Homo sapiens: one gene and its partner. The protein of the gene in region 1 interacts with the protein of each later gene in a biochemical or structural test. Each region holds a gene or a part of one and is shown on either strand. Other genes may lie near its edges.

Region 1 (4,599 bases):
GTGTCTCACTTTAAAAACTAGAAATGATTAGGCCGGGCACAGTGGCTCATGCCTGTAATCCCAGCACTTTGGGAGGCTGAGCGGGTGGATCATGAGATCAGGAGATCGAGACCATCCTGGCTAACACGGTGAAACCCCGTCTCTACTAAAAATACAAAAAATGAGCCGGTCATGGTGGCGGGCGCCTGTAGTCCTACCTACTCGGGAGGCTGAGGCGGGAGAATGACGTGAACCCAGGAGGCGGAGCTTGCAGTGAGCCGAGATTGCGCCACGGCACTCCAGCCTGGGCAACAGAGTGAGATTCCGTCTCAAAAAAACAAAACAAAAACTAGAAATGATTAAGCTTAGTAAGAAAGGCATGTCAAAGCGGAGACAGGCCAAAATGTAGGCCTCTTGCACCAAACCAGTAACCATGTTCTAAAGGCAAAGGCAAAGTTCGAATAGAAAAAGTGCCATTCTCATTGGGCACAGTGGCTCATGACTGTAATCCCAACACTTGGACTAGCCTTGGATGGCAAAACCTTATCTCTGAAAGAAAAAAAAAAAAATCCACAAAAATTAGCCAAGTGTGGTGGCATGTATCTACTGTCCCAGCTACTTAGGAGGCTGAGGTGGGAGAATCGCTTGAGCCTGGGAGGTTGAGGCTGTACTGAGCGGAGTTCGTGGCAATACACTCCAGCCTGGGTGACAGAGTAAGACCCTGTCTCAAACAAAACAAACAAACAAACAAAAAGAAAACAGAAAAGTCACTCCAGTGAACGCACGAATAAGAAAGCAAAGCAGCCATATTGCTGATATGGAGAAAGTCTGAGTGATACAGATAGAAAATCCAACCAGCCACAACATTCTCTTTAGCCAAAACCTAATCCAGAACAAGGTCCTTTAATTCTATCAATGTTGAGAGAGGTGAGGAAGCTGCAGAAGAAAAGTTGGAAGCTAGCAAAGGCTGGTTCATCAAGTATAAGGAAAGAAGCCATCTTTATAACAACGAAGTGCAAGGTGATGCTGGAAATGCTGATACAGAAGCTGTAGCAAGTTACCCAGAAGCTCTATCTAAGATCATTGATGAAAGTGAATACACTAAACAATGGATTTTCAATGTAGACGGAACAGCCCTATATTGGAAGAGGATGCCATCTAAGATTTTCATAGCTAGAAAGAAAAGGCGGCAGTGCCTGGCTTCAAAGAACAGGCTGACTCTTTTTGGGGGGATAACACAGCTGGTGACTGTAGGCTGAAGCCAATAATCATCTGCCATTCTGTGGGCCCTTAAGAAATTATGCTAAATCTACACTGCCCAATAATAAAGCCTGGATGACAAAACGTCTGTTTACAGTATGGTTTATGGAACATTTTAAGACAACTTGAGACTTGTTCAAGAGAAAAAGATTCCTTTCAAAATATTACTGCTCAAGTGCTCTGATGAAGATGTACAAAGAGATGAATCTGGTTTTCCTGCCTGCTAACACAACATTCACTCTGCAGCCCATGGAATAAAGGATTCTCTTTTCTCTAGATTCTTGCCAATACTTACTGACTTTTTGAAAACAGCCATCCTAACAGGTATGAAGTGATATTTTATTGTGGTTTTGATTTACATTTCCCTGATTGCAATGTTGAGCACCTTTTCATATACCTGGTTGGACATTTTGTGTCTTCTTTGAGAAATGTCTATTCAGGTCCTCCACCCATTTTTTTTAAATTGGGTTATTCATTTTTTTTGCTACTGAGTTGTGTAAGTTCCTTGAATATTTTAAATATTAACCCCTTATCAGATGTTTTTCATATTTTCTCCCAACCTGTAGTCTGCCTTTCATTCTGCTGTTTCTTTCTTTTGCGGTACAGAAGCCTTTTAGTTCAATGTAGTCCTAGTTATTTATTTTAGCTTTTGTTGCCTATGCTTGTGGTGTGATGGCCAAAAAACCAATGCCATGGCCAATATCGAGGAGCTTTTCCCCTGTTTTCTTTCAGCACTTTTATCATTTCAGGTAGTAAGTTTAGGTCTTTAATCTATTTTGAGTTAACTTTCACGTATGGTGTAAAGGTCCAGTTTCATTCTTTTGCAGGTGGGTATCCAGTTTTCCCAACATTTCTTTTTTCTTTTTCAGACAGTCTTGCTCTGTCACTCAGCCCGGAGTACAATGGTGTGATCTTGGCTCACTGCAGCCTCCCCCTCCCGAGTAGCTGGGATTACAGGCACCCGCCACCACGCCTCGCTAATTTTAGTATTTTTATAGAAACGGGGTTTCACCATGTTGGCCAGGCTGGCCTCGAACTCCTGACCTCAGGTGATTTACCCGCCTTGGCCTCCCAAAATGCTGGGATTACAGGGTGAGCCACTGCGCTCAGCCTCCCAACACCATTTCTTAAAGAGGCTATCCTTCCCCCATTGTGTTTTCTTGGGTGCCTTGTCAAAAACTGGTTGACTGTTGTGTTCCTTTCTATTCGCAGTTCCTAAGGTTCAGAACATGCATGGTCTTATAATTTATTGCCTTACCTATTACAACATCTAAATGGGTTTCCTTGTCACCATTTTCTAACCACTCCCATCGATTACTTCACAGTAGTGGCAGAGTTTGGACTCTTCACAAGTACTGATGCCATAAAGCACCAAAAACATTTAGTGGCTCCTTCCTCCTCCACAATATTCAAAATCATGTCCACTCTGTAGCAAGCACTGAAGGACAACCAATTGAGCTTTTCAATCAACTGCCGATTTTCTCCCTTTTATGTTAACCACAGACCATCTGTTGATTCTCAAGAATGTCTAGCCCTTCTCTGCCTAAATCTTAAAGATGAAAAGCTTATACATTATTTAAGATCTAGCTCAAACATTTTGGCTTCCACAAAATCTTTTCAGCATGCCTAATCAAAATTCACTGTTTTCTCATTTGCATTCTCATTGGAATTGTACGTAATTCTAATAGAGCACCAATCTACCTACCTGTTATCATAGCTATGTGGTATTACATATTCAAATATCCTTAAACATGTTAAAACATTTTTATGACATGTTTGTATCTTGAAATCCACAAAGTGTTTACCTAATACATGTTTAGATCAAGCTTGTTGAACACATGGCTTGCATGTGACCCAGGATGGCTCTGAATGTGGCCCAACACAAATTCATAAACTTTCACAAAATGAGATGTATTTTTTGCAAATTTTTAAAAGGTTATTGGCTACTATTAGTATTAGTGTATCTTATGTGTGGCCCAACACAGTAATTCTTCTTCCAATGTGGCCCAGGAAGCCAAAAGATTGGACACCTGTGGTTTAAAGAGTTAAGTAGAATAATACTTTCATGCACACAATATTCCCCAAATTAATTCACAATTCATCTACTAACCTCGTAATTTTCTACTTCTCCATCTTCTACATCTAATTCAAAGCTGAAAGTTGGGCCCACTGCAGGTGGCACTGGAAGCATTGATCTGCAGTGAAAACAATCACACTAGCATTGATATGTTAGTACATTAAATCAATGAACAGGACAGGGAGGACAGAGGCCAGTGCTATAAGGATGAAGAATGGTTAGTGTTAATCTGACAAATTTAACAAAACATATGCAAGAACTGTACAATAAAAACTGCAAATAGATTGCTAGGATAACTTAAAGGTGAATAAACAGAAATATACCACATAAGAAGATTAGAAGACTCAATATCATTCAGATGTCACTTTCTCCTTAAAATAATCTATAAATTCCATGCAATACCTACCAAGATTGCAGCAAGCACTTAAGTAAAAACTCACATGCTGATTTAAAAATTTATAAGGAAATGCAAAAGACCTTAAACTGAAACATTTTAAGACCAAATTGGGAGACATACTATATCTGACATTAAGATAGAAAGATAAATAGAGAAAACGGGGAGAGAGAGGAAGGAAGGAAGGAAAAACTATGACCACAGTGTGGTAACGTAAGCACGTGGCCTTCTGGTATAAAAACTGTATTTCCTAGCATTCCCAGAAAGTAATTATAGACATGTGACTAAGTTCTGGCCAATGTGATACAGAGGCAGGGGTTATACGTGCCACTTCTGGGACATATCCTTGAGAGGAGCAGGTAGGCAGAGGAATCTATTTTTATTTTTGCTAGGTGGAATGTCATATGACTAGAGCCTGAGAGGCCACCTTAGATCTTATACAGGAAGCCATTAACATTGTTCATAGTCACAGGGCTAACGAAATCATCGTTGAGCTGCCTACTTCTAGACTTTATTATGTGAGACAGAAATAAATAATTACTGGCAGGGCGCAGTGGCTCACACCTGTAATCCCAGCACTTTGGGAGGGTAAGATGGGCGGATCACCTGAGGTCAGGAGTTCGTGAGCAGCCTGGCCAACATGGCGAAACCCTGTTTCTACTAAAAGTACAAAAATTAGCTGGGCATGGTGGTCCATGCCTGTAATCCCAGCTACTTGGGAGGCCGAGGCAGGAAAATCGCTGGAACCTGGGAGGCAGAGCTTGCAGTGAGCCGAGCCGAGGTGGTGCCACTGCACTCCAGCACAGACTTAAGAGCGAGACTCCATCTCAAATTAAAAAAAAAAAACAACAAACCTACCCATGGGAATTTCTGTTACAGACCAACTTAA
Region 2 (3,936 bases), on another chromosome or scaffold:
GGCACTATGAATTTCTAAACAAAACAAAACAAAAAAACCTGGCTAATGTCAATATATACTTATTTTTTAAAAGTCACACATCACAATATTCTTCTAATACAGCCTCAGGACTTAATCTGATTTTGACTAAAGTGCCAAAAGATATGAGGTAGGAGGAAACATCAATTTAAAAAATAAGGATAACTTCAGAAAGTCTGGCAATTCCACCAAAGGTTCAAAGTAAGTTTCCATATGATCTAGCAATTCTATTCCTAGGTATATAGCCAAGAGAAATAAAACATACATCCACACAAAAATGTTCTTAGTAGTATTATGTAAAATAGCTAAAAAAGTGGAAACAATGAAAATGTTCATTAACTGAAGAAGGGATAAATAAAATGTGGTATATCCATGAGCTGGAGGATCATTGGATCATTCGGCCATAAGGATCATTCGGCCATGAAACATTGATACATTCTTGTTACAACACGGATAAACCTTGAAAACATTACACTATGTGAAAGAAGCCAGTTAAAAAAGAGCACAAATTGTACAATTCCATTTATATGGGATGTCCAGGATAGGCAAATCTAAGAAGACAAAAACTGGTTGCCTGGGGCTGGGGTAGTTGGGAATTGGAGAGTGACTGTTAATGAGTACAGGTTTCTTTTTGGGGCCGTGAAAATGTTCTAAGATGGACTGTGGTGATGGTTGCAAAACTGCGAATACACTAAAAGCCACTTTAAGTGGGTGAATTGTATGGCATGCGAATTACATCTCAATGAAGCTGCCAGAAAAATGAAGCCAGAAATGTAGAGGAAAAAAGGGTTATAGGGATCTGTCAAGCACCTAATTGCTATTTTTCTGGATTCTGTAATTTTGTGGTACTTACCAGTTTTTAAGTTTTATCATTTGTGATTTTTTCTCATTCTAAGTATTCATATTAGTAAAAAACATTTTCACCACATTCTTTCATAAACAAGTAAATTTACTGAAAAATCATTGTTATTTAAGAAGCTCATTTTTATGGCATGCAAATTATCTCAATAAAGATGTGACATCTTTGCATTAAAAAAAGGGATCACAATGGTAATATGTTAACCTTAAAAGAACCACAGAATTAACATCCCTGGACACTTAGTCGTCCCTCAAATTATGAAACCCACTAAAACGCTTGAACTACTTTAAAGATAATATTAACAGCTTTGTAAAAAGCCCAAAAAATATCTCAGTCAAGCAGACTCTCAAGTTCAGAAATGCCATGGGAAGTTGAAGATTTCATTATGAAAACGTACCGAGAACAACATAAAAAATACTGCTTGACCACTTTCCCTAAAAGCTAAACTCGTGATTAAGATGCAGAAGGGAAGTATTAAATCTATTTATCTAAACTCTTAAAAGCTGAAGGGAAGAAGTCTTCTATCAAAAATCTCAGTGGGGTGTGTGGGTATGCGTGTGTGCATGTGTGTATTTAACCCATACACCTTATGTAGACAATCTCGGGAGCAGCTGTATCTAAGACAATGAAGCTTTTTTTTTCCTTTTTAAATAATCAAACGTGATGGTGCCATTCCCTAGCCCACCCCATCCCCCACTACCACCACCAGCAGGTGGAGGGAAAGGATACTGTAGACTAGAGGATGACAGCTTTGTATAACCCTTTAGACTTTATATGTAAGAATGCAGCTGGTGGTCTCCTCTCAGGAGGGGGTAAAGAGATTTGTGGACAAGCTGAAATAAGGGGTATCCTTTGCCTGGAAGAGGGCACACCGTGAGCCACATCTTGAATCAGCTATATCCAGAGTAAAACACAGGCCGCTGGAAGGCACTGTTAGGATCACCAGGATGGCCTCTCACGCCGGGGGTGTTTTTTTCAACGGAGAAGTTGTCCTGTAGTTTGGATATTGGGGGGAGGCAGGGGTAAAGCGGGAGTCGGGAAGACCAGAAAAAATGCCTTTAAGTGGAGACGCCTCGGGCCTCGCTGAGGAAGTTCAGAGCCCCACTCGGTCGCCACACGCTCACCCTCCCATTCCCACCGCCCTCCTTCCCGCGGCGCCAGACGTCGGTGCCCGAGCGAGAGCCGGAATCTCCGCCACTGCCGGGGAAGGGGCCGCGGCCCGGCCGGGGCAGCACCGGCCGCACACGCACGCCTCCTCCGCACGCGCCGCGCCCGGCCTCCCCGCCGCGCGGCCCGGCCCCTCGCACCCGCGCCGGGCCGGCTCCGCCGGGCAGGCCTAGGCCGCGCCGGCCGTACCCGGGCACCTCGCTCCCCGGCGGAGGCGGAGCAGGCCCGACATAAACTTCCCGGCGCGCTAGCAGAGGCGTCACAGACGGGCCGGCCCCTAGCGCCATTCCCCGAGGCCTGGAGGCGGCTCCCGCCCCTAATCCCCACACTCGGGGTCCCGGCGGAGACCGGCCCCAGGCCCACAGCCCCCACCCCTCCGGCGTCGTCCCCGAGTTTACCTCCAAGTCGCGGCCTTTGTTCTTGAAATTCTTGAGCCGTTGGTTGTCCAGTTTCTCGTTGTCCGCCATGGCCGGGCCGGTGACTCCTTCCCCCGCCCGGGCCCCGCGGGATCCGCCCCAACCAACGCGCCGCACCGACACTCCCAGGAACCGGGCCGCCGCCTGAGCTGCTGTGCCCGCCGCGCCGCCGCTTCCTTCCTCCTCTCACCTGCCTCCGCCGCGGCCTTCTCCTCTCCCCGCCCGCCCCCCCGCCCTAACCCCAGCGCGACTGCAGCTCCGGCAAAGACAACTGTGGGGCCGGGCGGCGGCAAGGCGACGGAATGTGCTGCCGGCTGAGAGGGGGAGGCAGCCTCGATCTGAGGGCCCCGGCGCTGCGGCCACGCCCATCGCCTCCAGCCCGGCTCGCCCATTGGCTAACCAGGCTCCGGTGCGTTCGACCAATCAGAAGGGGCGATGGAGAGCCGGGGCGGAAAGAGCGAACGGAAAGGGGAAGCGAACGACGCTGGGAGGAGCCGGCTCCGGGCCCGGAGGGGTGCGGCGGGGGCAGGCGGGGAAGGACCACGTGCCTTCGGAGAGAGGGGTTGGAAGCAATAGAGAAGTAGACTTAAGGGGAAACCAGCAAGGGGAAGGAGAGGCCCGGGAACGCAGCAGGGCGAGTTGTTTTGCTCCACTCGTCCAGGAAGCCCTAGATGCCGGGGGTTCAGGGTCGAGGCTGCGTTAAAGTAACGTTCTTTTCTCCCCGGGCGCGCCCTGTCTTCCTGGGCATTCCTTGCGCTCTCCGTTCGCTTTGCAGAGAGATCTGAGCTTCGCTGTCTCCCGGTCGGACGCTCGCAGCTGCGTTCCCGGGCTGGGGCTCCGTGCCGTCCAGGGCCGGGTCTGGGGGCCAGGACCTGCTGGGATGACGTGAGTTGAGGAGGCTCAGCGGAAAGCGACAGGAAAGGTGGGTGGAAAAGGAAAGGGCCCATTAGACGAATCTGATTCATCTTCTGTGACTAAGCACCCGCAACAGTTAGGAATTTAGGCAGAGCTGGTGATCCTGGGACAATAGCACTTCCTAGGTAATTCGTCTTAAAAAGTTAAAGAAGCTGCTTGACCACAAAGTATGAACTTCTGGAGGGCGGGGCCCGTGGCAGCTGACAGGGAATATTGTGTGTTGAGAAAGGAAATGAGTTCCAAGGATACCAAGGACAACGTTACCAGAGGCAGAAATGACACGAGATACAAAAGAACGTATTCAAAAATTTAACAAAACAGAAATGGAAAATTATTTTAAAATATATTGAAATATCAACGAATAACACCTCAAATGTACAGGGATATGTAAAGCAGCAACTCGGGTCGGAAGCAAGGAATCGAGGCGTTGGGTGTGTTTAAACTTGACGAGGTAGGGAGAAGAGACCCTGATACAAACTCCTTCAGAATCGTTGACTCTCGGTCCTTTCTAGTATATTTTTTTAGTAGAACAACGTGCAGATAAGTGTTTAAAATGCAGAT

Evidence for each region.
Region 2: the proteins of RNF38 (region 1) and KPNA4 interact in a test that uses a peptide from one of them, tested with the Homo sapiens proteins (one large-scale study listed by BioGRID and IntAct).

The regions. Positions count from the first base shown.
Region 1 is NC_000009.12:36,347,766-36,352,364, forward strand, and holds part of RNF38 (E3 ubiquitin-protein ligase RNF38), read right to left. Parts: intron 3,435-4,599; coding exon 3,350-3,434; intron 1-3,349. UniProt on the Homo sapiens protein: Acts as an E3 ubiquitin-protein ligase able to ubiquitinate p53/TP53 which promotes its relocalization to discrete foci associated with PML nuclear bodies. Exhibits preference for UBE2D2 as a E2 enzyme.
Region 2 is NC_000003.12:160,562,772-160,566,707, forward strand, and holds the start of KPNA4 (importin subunit alpha-3), read right to left. Parts: upstream 2,801-3,936; 5' UTR 2,512-2,800; coding exon 2,443-2,511; intron 1-2,442. UniProt on the Homo sapiens protein: Functions in nuclear protein import as an adapter protein for nuclear receptor KPNB1. Binds specifically and directly to substrates containing either a simple or bipartite NLS motif.